2 linked regions of the Homo sapiens genome follow. The protein of the gene in region 1 interacts with the protein of each later gene in a biochemical or structural test. Each region holds a gene or a part of one and is shown in the gene's direction. Other genes may lie near its edges. The genes, in order: PEX10 and PEX12.

Evidence for each region.
Region 2: the proteins of PEX10 (region 1) and PEX12 form a complex in vitro, tested with the Homo sapiens proteins (one study listed by BioGRID).

Annotation. Positions count from the first base shown.
Region 1 is NC_000001.11:2,403,202-2,406,562, reverse strand, and holds the end of PEX10 (peroxisome biogenesis factor 10), read left to right. Parts: coding exon 1-79; intron 80-728; coding exon 729-797; 3' UTR 798-2,589; downstream 2,590-3,361.
Region 2 is NC_000017.11:35,575,589-35,580,166, reverse strand, and holds the start of PEX12 (peroxisome assembly protein 12), read left to right. Parts: upstream 1-1,595; 5' UTR 1,596-2,145; coding exon 2,146-2,271; intron 2,272-2,575; coding exon 2,576-3,129; intron 3,130-3,985; coding exon 3,986-4,385; 3' UTR 4,386-4,578. UniProt on the Homo sapiens protein: Component of a retrotranslocation channel required for peroxisome organization by mediating export of the PEX5 receptor from peroxisomes to the cytosol, thereby promoting PEX5 recycling.

The DNA of each region.
Region 1 (3,361 bases):
GGAGCGCAGGCACCCAACAGCCACGCCCTGCGGCCACCTGTTCTGCTGGGAGTGCATCACCGCGTGGTGCAGCAGCAAGGTGAGGTGGGAGCCTGCTGCCGTCCTGGGGTGGTCAGCGGCTGTGCCGGCAAGATGCACCTGGCTGCAGCAGAAGTGGGGAGTCTGGCTCTGAGCACCCTCCAGTTTTGAGGGTACAGAGGTGGGCATCTTTTTAAAGGCTCCCAGGTAGGTCAGATGTGGGTTCGTTGAGGGGGTTAAAGTTCCAAATTCACGTGTATTGAGGCTTTGCCGAATGCAGGTTGGGGTAGTGGCCAGCCCTGAAAGGCCCCACGCTTGCACCACGCATCCCAGCACACCCTTCCTCCCGGGGTCCTCACCACACTTGAAAACCCTAGCACACTGACTCACACCCACCGAAGATGCCGGCAGGGTGAGAGCGCACGCTTTCCCAGGAGCTGGGCTTCGTGGGCTGTGTCAGCTGCGGGAGCAGGAGGGAACCTCCCGGCCGAGCCCCACACCCTGAGCCCTACGCCCCCAGCCCCGCCCCAGCCCCCACTGGGACTCGGCCTTCTGAAAAAAGGCTGGCTTTCTTGGTCATTAGTTGAAGGAAATACAACATTTATGTTGTGTGTCATGTGCAGAGAATGTGGACAGGAAAAGAAATGCCGATGGGGATGGGCATGGCCCAGTGGCCCCAGCTGCTGTGACCCCCTTTCTCCTCTCCGCAGGCGGAGTGTCCCCTCTGCCGGGAGAAGTTCCCTCCCCAGAAGCTCATCTACCTTCGGCACTACCGCTGAGCCGGCGCCCGGGTGGGCCTGGACACAGATGACCTCTACGGGAGTCTGAACGCCAAGATTTAGTCTCAGGATTAACCTTGCTTGCACAGAAGTTAGAACACTCTCAGTTTTTTGTCATGTAAGATACTAACCTAGCCACCCTGGGAGAGAACAGAAAGCTGTCCCTGGCTGCGCTTTCTCAGCCCTGGGAGGGGCGCCTGAACCCAGAACATTTCCCTAACCCCAACCTGGTAGGACTCAGCCACTTCTTCAGGAATTTCACTTATTTGGACGGGATTTTAGGTTTCCCTCCCTTCCCCAAACCATACAGTTGAGAAGTAATTCAGAAGTAGGCCAGAAGACACTTTATTCGTTTATATTGTGAGAAAACAGCCCCATCAGGCTTGTGTTAAGGCAATGGACTGAATGAGTGCGTGCTGGGTGGGGTGGGGCACGGAGGCTGGCGGGTTGCTTCAGCCAGTGCAGTGAGAACAGCAGCCCCACGGCCCCATGGGAGGCGGCGCTGCTCTCCCCGAGGGCGGCTGGGCAGAGCACATCCCCCAGGACTTGATGACCACACGGGGCAGAGAGAAACCAACCAAGGCCAGCACCTCCGTCGGAAGCATTTGGCACACACACCTTCAATACACGTCAAGGTCGCTTCCAGTTTTAGAAAACAGAAATCTGCATCTCAGCCTGAGACGCACAGAGAGGTCTCTTCCTGACCCAGACGCACTCACGAGCCAGGTCCTGGGGGTATGGGGGCTGCCAGGGGCGCCCGAGCCCTCTCCTGGGGGGCCTGCTGGGCAGGCGACCTGCTGACCCACGGTCACTGCTGTGTTCAGCCCCTCAGCTCGGCCCCAGCCTATTTCCCGCCTCCATTTGATGTTTCCAGGTTTTCAAAACTGCATTTAACCTGCGCCAGAGAGTTCACCGTAGGCATCTTTAATAAACTAACTCCAGCAAAATGTGGGTACGTTACTAACACAAGATGGAACTTGAGATTTCCTGAAGCGCAGTGTTAAAATGCCTCGAGGGCGTGTGCCACATTTCCCTGCTGACGTAAAACACCTGGCCAGCAGGACCGGCTTCCGGCAAAGACCCGCGCAAACCATGTCTTGCTGTTTGACTTACTTAGGAATGAGGATGACCCTGTATTCCTGGGTTAGTCAAGGTCAGCTTGCCAGAGACGGAGGAGGGCGGGGGGGCCGTGACCCTCTAGACTGGGAGGACCACCAGGAGAGGCACTGGGGGCTGCGGCCGGGTGGGCAGATGCCGCCGTGGCTCCATCCATCAGCACCCAGTCCTTTGCTTCACTGTGCTCTGGCCAAGCGCGTGCGACTTCCTGTCACACCTTAGGCCTGAGCGCTTATTAAGAAAACAGTATGAAAAATGACAAACACTCCTGTCCACAGTCTGAGAATCCCAAGTGTCTCAACACGGTACCAGAAGTACCACCTGGGAGCAGCACTGGCTATCTTGGGTCAGGGACACACAAGCTTGAACGTGGCCTCTTAGAGGAGCTCGATGTCAGATATGTAAACACTGGTACAAGAAAATCCAGACACTAAGCATTCACCGTGTCAATTCTGAGACAGGAAACACCGCCCAGAGTGAGGAGCCTGCGCAGCCCGGGGCCCAGGAGGAGAGGCCTTCACTCGCATGTCAGTGTCTCATCTGGGACCACAGCTGTGATGTTCTGCTGTGCAATATGGGTCACCTTTCGAAAAGGCCAAACAAAAGGTGGGCTTTCCTGTGTCCAGCGACTGCCATGTTTTAGGTAAAGACTTTAGTAAAGGTGGAGGTAAAATCACTTGGTAAAACGTTGAGAGTATTTCTTTTCTCGAATCAAAAACGCTGACATGCAAGTGGGTTCCGCCTCTCCCGCAGTGGGGGGCCGAGTGCTGAACCTACAAAGCCAGTCTGCTCCCTGCCAGCTTCGCTGCCCCTCATGGAGGGTTGCATGAGGACAGATTTAAATTAAAAACAAAACACTCTACGTATCAAAGAAATGTGTCAAAATAATCTCAAACAATTAAAATATAATATATATTTATAATTCCGGGCCCTCAAAAGCAATCATGGTAGTTAAGAACCAAGTTTTGAGTCATTAGGATAGAGGCCAACTTTAAACATCTCCAGTGAGATGGAATTAGGAAACTGGCATTAGAACCCCACACAGTTACTTGACAATCACCTTTAAAACGTTAAGTTCTTTCGGACACGCAGGAATCAGGCTAGATCATCCCTCGGGCTCTGTGGAGTGGCTGGCACCACCTGCGGCTGCTGGGGAAGGCGGCTGGCGGGGAGCGGCCCGTTCCTCCCTCGCAGGCCTTGCTCCTGCCTGCCCACCTGGCACAGCGGGGACCGGCCACTCGCCCTTGCTCCCATGGGCTCCACCCGCCTGGCTTCCCGCCTGCAGCTGACTAGAATTCCATCCGTGAGAAACACTTGAACGTCACTGAAAAAGAAATCCATGCGATTTGGTTTAAGCGCCAGTTTCTTCTAGAACCTGATATTTCAGTTACAAATCATTGAAGCTCCTTTTTAAAAAGAAAATTTGACTCCCTCGTAATCAACTACTT
Region 2 (4,578 bases), on another chromosome or scaffold:
AACTTGAACCAAGAGAGGTCAGTCAAAATTTGTATCACGAGCAGAGTCACAAACAGAAATTGGTGGAAGCTCGTTCACTGCAACAACGTTGCCTGGATAAGAACTTCTAATTCCTGTTAGGCAGTCCCAATAGTATTGTTAAGTTCCTGTTCTTTCAGGGCTGGCTTTACTTATTTTGTGAGCTACTCCATACACTTCTAATAAATTCCGTTTTAGTTTAAATTAGCCTGTTTGTTTCTGTTGCTTGTAACCAAAGATCCCTAAGTGACAAAAATGTTTAATTTCCTGCTTGATTTAGTTGATGCTACCTCTCAACTTTGTATTTTTGCTATTCACTTAAGAAAAGCTTGTACATAACAGTTACTATTAAACAAGCACCTAATATGTATCCAGGTGCTTCATATGGATAAACTATGTCTAGTCTTAAAACTCTGTAAGGTAAAAATCATATATCAATATAATGTCTTTTGGTAGAGTAAAAAACACTTTTTATAACTATAATTAAGGACAATTTGTAAGGTTTTCTCTCCTATTGGAATAACTAAATCCAAACCTTGTTTTTGAGGGTTCTCATTATGCAAACCAATTATTTTTATAACATAAGGGCCTCTAGGGCAGTAAACAATACCTTCTATTCCCAGCTATTTAGCCCAGAGGTGGCACTTCCCAGAGGAAGGGAGGAGAGGTGGAACTCTCATCCAAATTCAATAAGGCTGTGTCAGCCAACTTCAGCGAGACAAAGCTGTACATAACATAAAAGCACTTTACAAACCTTAAGGTAAATCACATTCATTTTGGTATAAAAACGGCATGAAAGGAAACTTTCTGTCAAGTGTCCCCAGTGCATGCTAGTTACAATTCATAAAGCTCCCTCTGCGTTAGTACTGTATTCATATCGCTGGTGGTGACATATACAACTGTGTTCAAGGATGGAGACCATTTTCATCCAGTATAGCAAGTGCATGCAGTTATGCTTGAATATAGCCAAAACCTGGAAGACGTTAAACTACCAGCTTGGATGAAAATTAACCGTCTCAAGTACTGAGGAACAAGCATGAACCTTTCTCAATCCAATCATCTTTCCTTATAATTGGCGGCAATAAATCTAAGGCTCCTATCTCCTGCTATGTCGCTTTAAATCATTTCTGGAAGGCTAAGACATATAAATTAACCACCATCCCTGCCGCACGCGTACAGCAAAGTCCTTTCCACCTCCAGATTCCCTTCCTCCCACCGCCCCTAGCTTCATCGCCTGCAGGAACACAGGGCTCAGCAACGGGCCCGAGCTCTGGCTCCCGGCGCCAGACGTCTGCGCGGTGCCCCAAACAGCTTGTCAAAAAGACCTCGCAGAGAGAGGTTCAGAGCTGTAGCTTTCCAGCGAGGCTACCATGCAGACCCAGCTACGAAAAGTAAACCAAACTAGCCAAAACCAGCCCACAAGGGCCCTCTTCTGTTTCAGCGGGGCGGGAGCGGAAGCTCAGGTGGGTCATAGAGTTCTCTAGTTCTGGTTTCCGGACCGCATTCGGAACTAGAGCGCCTCTCTTCCGCCAGGCATCCCAGAGGTCCTGGTGGTTTCATTTCCGGGTGCGGCTTCTGTCATAAAGCGGAGACCTCCCTTCAAACGTGGCGTCGTGGGTTGTTTGCGCCTCGCCTGGGGTCAGCGAGCAAGGACGGGCGCGGGCGGGGATACTCAAAGCCAACAGCTGGAGTCAGCCCTTGTGTCCCGGGCTCACAGTGGCACGACTGAATCCTCAGAGTCGGCTGGCTTTTGAGCTCTCACGATTGGGGAGGAGGGGGCGTTTCTGGTTCGCAGCTCCAGAGGATTGCGTTCCTTCCCCCATACCTGTCCCCCACAGTCACGCTCTGCCCTGACGTGCAGCATTTGACAAGTTACCCCCTCGCCACATACTACTTCCACCCACGTCCGAGTTAACTTTGTTCTTAACCTTCTTGAGACTACCCTCGGCCTCCAGGTCTTTTTTTCCCAGTTCATTTTTGCCCATAAGATTGAGTTTCGAGTTTCAGATATCATGCAGAAAGTTTACCTTTAAGACTGAGCACCCATCTGATACTCTTCCTCCCGAAAAAGTTCATGCTCACGAGAGAGTTTGTGGGAAAAGTGAAAGCCAGTACACGCAGGAAACTATGGCTGAGCACGGGGCTCACTTCACAGCTGCTTCTGTGGCCGATGACCAGCCATCCATCTTTGAGGTGGTAGCACAGGACAGTTTAATGACAGCAGTGAGACCCGCTCTTCAGCATGTGGTCAAGGTAAGGTATTAATTCTTGGAAAGGTTTTAGGGACAACTGGGTAAAAAACAAACGAATAATTTGTGCTTATTTGGTAGCCTAGCGTTTGAAATAGCCAATTTGCAAATAACTTGTATCCCATGACTTAAGAGTTACTGAGTCTCTGTTATGTGTAGAGACCTGTACTGAATACCCAGCATTTCAGGGTCCAACAGTGACTTATTTAAAACAAATTGTGTAGACTTTAGAGGAAAAGGGGGAATGTAAATAGGTGTAGAACTTGTGTAATGGAATGAATTTCACTTATTGCTTTATTTTGCTTTAGGTTCTTGCAGAATCAAATCCCACCCACTATGGCTTCTTGTGGAGGTGGTTTGATGAAATCTTTACTCTGCTAGATCTTCTGCTCCAGCAACATTATCTGTCTAGAACCAGTGCCTCATTTTCTGAAAACTTTTACGGCTTAAAGAGAATTGTAATGGGGGACACTCACAAGTCTCAGAGATTGGCTAGTGCTGGTCTCCCAAAGCAGCAGCTTTGGAAATCTATTATGTTCCTGGTTCTTCTTCCCTATCTGAAAGTGAAGCTGGAGAAGCTGGTTTCTAGCCTGAGAGAAGAGGATGAATATTCTATTCATCCCCCTTCTTCCCGCTGGAAACGATTTTACAGAGCTTTCCTGGCAGCCTACCCATTTGTGAACATGGCCTGGGAAGGATGGTTTCTTGTACAACAACTTCGATACATCCTAGGAAAAGCTCAGCATCACTCACCACTGCTGAGGCTGGCTGGAGTTCAGCTAGGTCGACTGACAGTTCAGGATATACAAGCTCTGGAGCACAAACCAGCTAAGGCCAGCATGATGCAGCAACCAGCCAGGAGGTAAGGCCTTAACATTTCCAAAAGATCTTTAGTTAGTAAATTCGAAAATCGTATCCCAGTTTTGTAAAATTCACCTCCCTGTTAACTTTGTGGCATTTCATAGAGTCATAGAAAAGCTATTCCTTGTGTCCATAAAACAAGGACTGTCATCCTGGTAACCTTCATCATTCTAGGTATACTTTAGTGCATACTTGCTATGTCCCAGGCCCTGTGCTAGGTGCTTGCTTTACGTACATTATCTCAATCCTCAACACAACCCAATGAAGTAAATGTATTAGCTCACAGTTGAGGAAACTAAACCCAAGCAGTTAAGTACCTTGCCAAAGTCACGTAGGTACATAGAAGGTGGCAGAGCTGGGATTCAAACCAAACCAATACAATTCTAAAGACTGTGCTCTGTGAGCCACTGCACCCAGCCTAAGACTGTGCTCTTAATCATGATGCTGTGCTCCTTCTAGTTCATATTTGTGTTCTCCTACAAGTTCAAATATATACATTCCTCAATACTGCTAAGTTTTTTATTAAGTGAATTGGGTTTTTTTTTTTTTTTCTGGATCACTATCTTCCACTAAAAAAAGGGAGGTCTATATAATCAAATTCTCTGATTTATCTTTCAAAACACAAAACCAAACCCTAATCATGTTACTAAAAACAAAGCTTAGCTCCTATGCTCCTAAAATATTGTAAGTTAGAATCACTTAGAATAGATCCTTAAGGAGATAGTACCAGTCTACCAACCATTCAGTCCCCCAGTGATTCTGATGAAAAATGTAAGAATTGCATTTATATTAGTCACTTTGTAATGATACCTAAATAAAGTTTCTCTCTTTGCCTCCTTGTTCTTTTCTCCCAACAGTGTTAGTGAGAAGATAAACTCAGCTCTGAAGAAAGCTGTTGGGGGTGTTGCCTTATCCCTGTCTACTGGCCTTTCTGTGGGTGTATTCTTCTTGCAGTTCCTTGACTGGTGGTACTCATCTGAAAATCAAGAAACCATCAAGTCATTGACTGCCCTGCCTACTCCACCACCACCTGTACACCTAGACTATAACTCTGATTCTCCCCTCTTACCCAAAATGAAGACTGTGTGCCCACTGTGTCGTAAAACCCGGGTGAATGATACTGTTCTTGCCACCTCTGGCTATGTGTTTTGTTACCGCTGTGTGTTTCATTATGTGAGGAGTCACCAAGCTTGTCCCATCACAGGTTATCCAACAGAAGTACAACATCTGATTAAACTCTACTCCCCTGAGAACTGAAAGGGAATCATGTCTTATCCTCACAACAAAAGTATTGCGCTGTAATGTCACAGAGCTGGTTTCAGCATGGTATTGAGTTGACACTTCTCAGCCTCAATTCATAACTATATGAACTTTAAATGATTATATGGATTTCTTTAAAAGGATATGCCCATTTGATCCTAACCTTTTAGCCTGCTCTCTAGAACCCTAC